Regions from separate parts of the Homo sapiens genome. Here region 2 is linked to region 1. Evidence: fine-mapped expression QTL. A gene starts in region 1. The other region holds a variant in brackets. All regions are shown on one strand. Distances are between the middles of the regions.

Region 1 (4,392 bases):
CCATTGCAGAGGAGCGAGTTGGACACAACTGTGGGGCTCTAAGAGTCCTGAATTCTTACTGGGTTGGTGAAGATTCCACATACAGATTTTTTGAGGTTATCCTCATTGATCCATTCTATGAAGTTATCAGAAGAAATCCTGACACCCAGTCGATCACCAAACCAGTCCACAAGCAGAGGGAGATGTGTGGGCTGACATCTGCAGGCCAAAGGAGCTGTGGCCTTGGAAAGTGCCATAAGTTCCACCACACTATTGATGGTTCTTGCTGGGCAGCTTGGAGAAGGCGTGATACTCTCCAGCTCCACCGTTACCACTAATATAAGTAAAGTTTGGGCCAGGCGTGGTGGCTCACGCCTGTAATCCCAGCACTTTGGGAGGCCGAGGCGGGCGGATCACAAGGTCAGGAGATCGAGACCATCCTGGCTAACACGTTGAAACCTCGTCTCTACTAAAAATACAGAAAATTAGCCGGGCGTGGTGGCGGGCGCCTGTAGTCCCAGCTACTCGGGAGGCTGAGGCAGGAGAATGGCGTGAACCCGGGAGGCGGAGCTTGCAGTGAGCCGAGACTGCGCCACTGCACTCCAGCCTGGGTGACAGAGCGAGACTCCGTCTCAAAAAAAAAAAAAAGTTTGTAAAATTCGTACCTAATAATTTAGGACAGTCATGTCTGCTTACAGGTGTTATTTGTCTGTTAAAACTAGTCTGCAGATTGTTTCATGAATGCTTTGTCAAATTATGAAAATTAAAGTGCAATAATTTTTGAAGACAATAAGGGATGGTGTATCTTGTTTCTAATAAGATGAACTTTTTTTGTCTTTGCTTTATCTTATTAGGGAGTTATATATCTTATTAGGGAGTTAGTGTTTAAAACATACTGTGTGGTATAATAGGCTTAAAATAAATTCTTTAAAAGAGAAAGAGAGAAAAAAACACACACATACACAGACCGGAAGACTGACAGAACAGACTCTTTGTGGCGATGATACAAATTGTCAACAGGACCTATGGCCATCCCAGGCAAGAAACCCAGCTAGGCCAGTGAAACTGAGAGCCAACCTGATGAGGCCTGCCAAATGCAACTTCTCTCACTTGTTTTTAGTCACCTGCTTTTAGTGGATTAAAAAACCCACATAGCTAAAGTCACAGAGCTAAACAATATATATCTAAGCTCCCACTATCTTCCTTATGGATAACATCTCTGACATCTGGGTTGCTTGATAAAGGTTTCTTGTTTTTCAGGAAGTTGGGGTCAGTTCTTGTACAGTTTAAACCACCAACCTCTCAACTGGGCCTGCATGAAAGCCCGATGGGTGTCCTTCTGACATTAGAGGGCCAAAACCTCCACACTCAGATCATGCTAAGGATGTCATTTTGTGACCATGTATCCTATAAAGAGCCATGAAGCTTGACTACCTCGCGCAGATAACCCATTGCCAAACTTTTCCTTACCTTCAACCGCCTTTCCCCACACCTCAGACCACCCTGCTCCTCTATCCCATAAATATCCCTAAAACCCATCTTTGGGGAGGCAGATTTGAGATCTGTTCTCCCGTCTCCTCGGCTGGCTGCCTGGTGAATAAACCTTTTCTCTGCTACAAAACTCATCATCTCAGTGACTGGCGTGCGGCACACGGCAGCATGGGCCCCATACGGTACCCAGCCTCTACCTTGATTACACAACACCTGATTACACAACGCTGATTACACAGCACACCTGCGGAGCTTTGAGAGCTACAAGCCTCCTTTCCTCCCCGCAAAGTCCAGCTGGGCCCAAGTAGAGGATGCTGCAAAAGCCCCCACGATTCAGCTGCGAACCTAGGGATGGGACCCGCTGCTCATGCCGTCCTTCTAGGTTAGAGAGCCCTAAACTGGGCTGTGTATCAGAATAGTCCGCGTGCTGAGAATAATATAGATTCCTGGGCCTCGGCCCAGGTTTACAGAGGCGGGATGCTCAAGGATGCCCAGCCAGGCTCGGGACTTGCTCTTCGCAAGTCCTGTCGCGCGCTCGCTGCCCCGCCGGTTCAGGCGGTGAGGCCAACGCGCTCCGCCAGGGGGAACCTGGGCGCTGCGACACTGCAAGTCGTTTCCGGGCGCGGGCTGAGTGGGAGGAGCGGGGCGGGGCGTGGCGTGACCCGGAAGTCGACGAGGGGTTCCGCCCCCCCCGCGCATGGGGAGGTAGGCTCGGACCGGCCCGCGGAGCTGCTGCAGTCCTTCGCGCCCTCCTCGCCCTCCCCACCGACATCATGCTCCAGTTCCTGGTGAGTGGAGCTGCCGAAGAGCGGGGCCCGCTGCCTGGGGCGTGCCTCGGACCCCATTTCCCCCTTGAGGATTGCCGACCCCGCCGACCCGGCCTGGGCGTGGGTCCAGCGGTCCCTTCGTCCCCCGCGCCTGGTCGTCGCCTCGCAGGGCGGCCGTTTTCTTCCTGCCTCCCCAGAAAATCCCTTTGCCAATATTTTTCTGCAGCCATCCAAGTCCCTAAAACTTTGAGGTGTCAGAGAGTGTGCGTTTCCAGAGCTTCTTATTGTGTGCCGCGCCCCGCGCTCATTGTGCAATCTTTGTATTAAAGCTTGTGTGGTCCTTGATGACTTTTCGTAGTCCGCCCCCCTTTCTTTCTGCGCTCCTGTTCCATTACATGGTCGCCGGCCGGTCCCTGCTGTGGAGCCCTGCTAGTTGGCTTTTCTGAGGAGGTAGGAAGGCCAGGAATAAACCGTAAATTAGCCACCTCACGAAGTCCGAGAGGCTAAGTCCTCATCAGACCTTTCAGAGTTGGAGGAATGAGTCAGACACTGGTATACAAGTAATTTTTCCCAAAATGTGTAAGCATGAGTAAGCAGACTATTTCTCTTGGCTCCTTATTTGAGTTAAAAACGAGTTTTCTGGCAAAACTCGGTATATTTCAAAAATTGCTTGGTGAAGGTTCCAGGAGTTGCTCATCAAATTTTCAAGTGAAAGTTTTTCTGCCAAGCTATTGTGCATTCAAAACTTGATGCTTTCAACCTCTATTTTTTTTTATTTTTTATTTTTTTTGAGACGGAGTCTCGCTGTGTCGTCAGGCTGGAGTGCAGTGGCGCAATCTGGGCTCACTGGAACCTCCGCCTCCCGGGTTCAACCGATTCTCCCTCCTCGGCCTCCGGAGTAGCTGGGATTACAGGCGCGCACCAGGATGCTCAGCTAATTTTTGTATTTTTAGTAGAGACGGGTTTCACCAAGTTGGCCAGGCTGGTCTCGAACTCCTGACCTCAAGTGATCAACCCACCTCAGCCTACGAAAGTGCTGGGATTACAGGCGTGAGCCACTGCTCCCGGCTCAAATGCTGTATCTTTTTTTGTTGTTTGTTTTAACGGAGTCCCGCTCTGTCGCCAGGCTGGAGTGCAGTAGTGCGATCTCGGCTCACTGCAGCCTCCGCTTCCTGGGTTTAAGCGATTCTCCTGCCTCAGCCTCCCGAGTAGCTGGTGCGCGCCAGCAGGCCCAGTTAATTTTTGTATTTTTAGTAGAGACGGGGTTTCACCCCGTTGGCCGGGATGGTCTCGATCTCCTGACCTCGGGATCTGCCTGCCTCAGCCTCCCAAAGTGCTGGGATTACAGGCGTGAGCCTCCGCGCCCGGCCCCAAATGCTGTATCTTTATCAAAGAGATTAAAACACAAAATGCACCCCTTTTGTCCTTTTGAAAGATGGTAATGGATTGTTAAATCCAATTAGTCAAAAGAGTGTCCTTAATCTGCCCAGCTAAGACAGGGCTGCTCCTTTGCCTCTAGGAGTTTCTGTAGTGTCCTAACTAGATGTTAGTTTAGGAGTTCAGAATAATGACAGTCATTTTCTTGTAGTAAACACTAGATTAAAAGCGGTATCACTTAGCTCCAGAGTATAGAATGATGTAATTGAGCTGCTTACTATATCTGTTGCTCATTGATAAACTGAGAGGACATGATTCAATTACAGTTAACTTTCTAAGTGGTTTTGCAGAATGAGTCTATTTGGTTTTGCAATAAACTTTTACTGTGTGTTAATTTTTTTTTTTTTTTTTTTTTTTTGAGACAAGGTTTCTCTTTGTCACCTAGGCTAGAGTCCAGTGGCACAATCATGGCTCAGTGCAGTCTTTAATTCCTGGCCTCAAGCAGCCTTCCCACCTCAGCCTCTTTAGTAGTAGCTAGGACTACAGGCCCGCACTACCACCCGTGACTAATTTTAAAATTTTTTTTTTGTAGAGACAGGTCTTGCCTAGGCCTCCCACAGTGTTGGGATTACAGGCATGAGCCACCACTGTGCCTGGTCAGATTCTGATTTGAGAATTCAGAATTCTCAGTATTTAAGGAGAGATGCTAAAGCTGTCAATTATATTCCTAGCTCAGAAGTAACTGAACACTGATGTTCTCTCACCCTCTGGTCTTCCA
Region 2 (4,392 bases), 31 kb before region 1:
CAGGTGTGCACCACTGCATCTGACTAATTTTTGTATTTTTAGTAGAGATGGCATTTCACCATGTTGGCCAGGCTGGTCTCAAACTCCTGACCTCAGGTGATACCCGCCTCAGCCTCCCAAAGTGCTGGGATTACAGGCGTGAGCCACCATGCCTGGTTCCTATCTCTATTATAATAAAAATGAATTTTTTTAAAAAAAGAATTAGACAAAAGCTTTTATGTGATTTCCCCATGTCATGCTAGTTACTGTTTCATAGAACAGCTTCTTGAATTCACTAGTCATTTTTATACCCATTTATATTACATTCTTACTCTAGTTCATTTGGCCAAACAATAAAGAAAATAGGGGTCAGATAATAGTTTTCATACAGTAGTTCTGAGTTATATTCTTCTACAGTAGTCTCCAAATGTATTAACTTATAAGCTTTAAAATAATCCTTTAGTCTTGTGAATTTTAAATGTTTACTTCCTGAAGAGATAAATATGTGAGTGCAGAAAACAATTGCTTATCTGTTACTCATCCTCACTTATTGTGAGGCTGAGTATTGTATTACTGAGTATTATGGTAAAGTTGAAGGTTACTTCCTTCAACATTATTTATAAAATGAATTATGCATTTATATATAATTTTCTACTTCTACCTGTTTTTTCTATTCCTCTTCCTTTTCAATGGCTTAGGTATTGCAGTTTCTTATTTCACATTCTGATACCATACAAGCAATTCTGCGCTGTCAGGATGTTAGTGCTGGGTCTTTGCAGGAATTGGCTCTGCTGACAGGAATTATAAGTAAAGCAGCACTTCCTGGTGAGTTGATTATGTTGAAAGGATTTTTAATAATTCTTTAAAGACTGACATAAATTAATAGAATGAGTTTTTTTGTTACTTTGCAGCTATATATGACTTATTTGAAATTGGTACTGCTAACAGAGCCTTTATTTATGTAATAAGTTTATGTTTATAAAATGATACATGCTTGGCTGGGTGTGGTGGCTCATGCCTGTGATCTCATCACTTTGAAAGGCTGAGGCAGGATGATTGCTTGAGGCCAAGGGTTCAAGACCAGCCTGGGCAACATAGAGACACCCTGTCTCTACCAAAAAATTTTAAAAATTAGCTGGGTGTTGGGGCATTCACCTGTGGTCCTGGCTACTTGGGAGGTTGAGGTAGGAGGATTACTTGAGTTGGGAAGGTTGAGACTGCAGTCAGCCAAGATTATGCCACTGCAATCCAGTCTGGGCAACAGAACAAGACTCCGTCTCTGTTTTGTTTTGTTTTTTTTTTTTAAGATATAGGCTTATTATAAAAATATTCAAAAGGAGATAACTAACACTCAAAATCTCACCACCTAGAAATTACCAAATGTTGACATTTGATAAATTTTCAAACATTGCTTTATGTGTACGTACATATGAGAAAGGGAGGGGGAGAGAGAGAAAGAAAGCAACAGAGACATACAGAGGCAACTAATGAGAATAGGATGACCTTTTACATGCTGTTTTAAAAAACAAATATTTAATTTTACATGAATTTATTTATTTTTTTATTATACTTTAAGCTCTAGGGTACATGTGCACAACATTCAGGTTTGTTACATAGGTATACATGTGAATTTTACATGAACACAGACAAAAATCTAATTGAAGAGAAACGAAAGGAATTGCCAAATTCCAGACAAATGTTTCTTTACTACTAGAGTATGTCACCTTTTAAAAGATCACTGCGAGTAAGGAAAAACATTATGAAACATTATTAAGATACTTTGGTTACTTTCCCCCCTTATAATTTCTTTACTACATGTAAATTTTGAATCAGTTAACTCCCTGATGGGAAAGATGAAATGATGACTTCTTTTACACTTCCTCTTCCACCCTCAGATGATGTTTGCTTATATCATTTTAACCTTGTCAGGTTTTGTAACATTTACATCTGTTATGCAACCATAATATCCTCAGCTACTTAGTTTTAGTTGTATATTTACATGGATTCACTGCAAAACACCAGTTGTGTTCCCCACCATGGCGTCACCATTCACGAGTTCTTTCTTTTGATTTATCTCTTGGTATTTTTTTTTTTCTTTCTTTCTTTCTTT[C/CT]TTTTTTTTTTTGAGACGGAGTCTTGCTCTGTCGCCCAGGCTAGAGTGCAGTGGCGCGATCTCGGCTCACTGCAAGCTCCGCCTCCCCGATTCACGCCATTCTCCTGCCTCAGCCTCCCGAGCAGCTGGGACTACAGGCGCCCGCCACCACGCCTGGCTAATTTTTTGTATTTTTAGTAGAGACGGGGTTTCACCGTGTTAGCCAGGTCTTGATCTCCTGACCTTGTAATCTGCCCGCCTCGGCCTCCCAAAGTGCTGGGATTGCAGGCTTGAGCCACCGCGCCCGGCCTATCTCTTGGTATTTTTAATTTGTACTGAGGTTCCTTCCCTCAAGAAAAAGCATGCTGTCTCATATTCCTGAAATTCTCTAAGAATGTCTGAAGGTTGTCTTTGTTCTTTAATGACAGGACGGCCGATTATGATTTTCTTTTGCTTAGAATATGTAATATAAATGATAGTAGCTGGCATTTATTAAGCATGTATGTGCCAGGTACTGTTTTAAATACTTGACATGTTAATTGATTGGAAGACACAGCAGTCTTATGAGGTAGAACTGTCATTATCCACATTTTACAGCTGAGGAGGCTGAGGCACAGGGAGGTTAACTTGTCCAAAGTCACACAGATAACACTGCATAGTATAGAGTTTCCCAGGCAGTACGTCTTTTGAATCTATATATGTAACTACGAGGCTACACTACCTCCATTTTTATGTTGCTTTGGAGATGTCTGAGGCAACCTCTGAATCCACCCTATAATCCCCAATAATTTTTTTTGTCTGGGCTGTCTCGGTGGCTGAGCCCTCTGGGTTGAGAGACGTTGAGAGTTGGCCAGGGCTGAGTACAGTGCCAGCTGAGTTACTTGGAGCCTGTGCTTCTTCCAAGGAGATCCCAGGGTCTATTCCACCCAGCCTGTGGTGTGCTTCGTTCACCAGTTCATTCCAGTGTCCTAAGATGATACCAAGTCAGGCCACCCTTCTTGTCTCTACTAAGGTCCTGTAGTGTTGTGGGGTGGAACTCCTAATGGTTTTTCCTTTGATTTTTTCCAGGACTTAACTAATTACTCTCAATGTACTTCTGTAAATTGCAGGGTCTCCATGAGATTTTTTCTCATCAGCACATACAGCTCCTGCCCATCCTTTTTAATTGACTGCCTGGTTTTCCAGTTGTGAGATAGTTAACCAGACCCTTGTTTTATTTGTTTGTTTGTTTTTGTTTTTATTTTTGGGGGGACAGGGTCTCACTCTTGTCACCCAGGCTGGAGTGCAAAGCTGCAATCGTGGCTCACTGCAGCCTCGACCTACCTGGCTCAAGTGATCCTCCCACCTCAGCTTCTCAAGTAAGCAGGACTACAGGCACATGCTGTCACACCAAGCTAATTTTTTATTTTTTGTAGAGACAGGGTCTTGCTATGTTGCCCAGGTGTTCTCGAACTCCTGGCCTCAAGCATTCCTCCCACCTCAGTCTCCCAAAGTGCTGGGATTACAGGCAGGAGCCACCACGCCTGGCCTATTTGTTTGTTTTAGAGACTGGGTCTTACTCTGTCACCCAGGTTGGAGTGCAGTGGCATGATCATAGCTGGAACGCCTGAGCTCAAATGATCCTCCTGCCTCAGCCTCCCAAGTAGCTGAGAATACAGCACACACCACCATGCCTAGCTAGTACTTTGTTTTTTAATCAGATTCTATGACATGTTGACTGTTTCCAAGCTTCTTAAAATTTTAAACAGTGTGGCATTTAATAATTTTGTGTGTATATGTGTGTGTGTACTTATCTGTTTACCTCTAGCTATATATTTACATATGCATTCATGAACATTTTTTACATTTGTTTTTATTTTTATTACTTTTTTAATTTTTAATTTTTTGTTGTTGAGACAAGGTCTCACTATGTTGCCCAGGCTGGTCTCAAACTTCTGGCCTCAAGCAATCCTCCCACTTCAACTTTCCAAAGTGTTGGGATTACAGGCGTGAGCCACTGAACCCGGCCCCATTTTTGTCCATTTGAACTGATAAGACTTGATAAATTCCTGGCAGTACTTTATCAGAAATATATGTGCTTAACATTTTTGTTAAAAATAATACCAAATATCCTCCCAAGCTTTTGAAAACACTTTTAAACAAGTTATACTACTATCAACCCTGTTGTGTACAGTTCAGCCCTGTATTATCCTATAATTTGCTATAATTTATGCACATTTGTCTTAAACGCTCCCATTAGATTGCAGTTCTGTTTGTAACTTTGTATCCCCCATGCTGCCTAGCCCACTACCGTGTATGTTGTACCTCCACAAATCTTATCAGCA

The links.
Region 2: its variant is fine-mapped to the expression of STMP1 in prefrontal cortex (BrainSeq, PIP 0.95).

The regions. Positions count from the first base shown.
Region 1 is chr7:135,660,337-135,664,728 of GRCh38, forward strand. It overlaps STMP1 (short transmembrane mitochondrial protein 1), which reads left to right and starts at 2,178. Exons shown (of 3, transcript NM_001130929.2): 1 at 2,178-2,258. The coding sequence starts at 2,244. It also overlaps the pseudogene RPL15P11. RefSeq lists a silencer at 2,053-2,272 and enhancers at 2,912-3,436, 3,437-3,961.
Region 2 is chr7:135,629,667-135,634,058 of GRCh38, forward strand. It overlaps NUP205 (nucleoporin 205), which reads left to right. Exons shown (of 43, transcript NM_015135.3): 35 at 678-804. Among named protein-coding and RNA genes, the nearest start is that of STMP1, 31 kb to the right of the region's middle. The variant C/CT (reference allele first, on the strand shown) is at 2,090.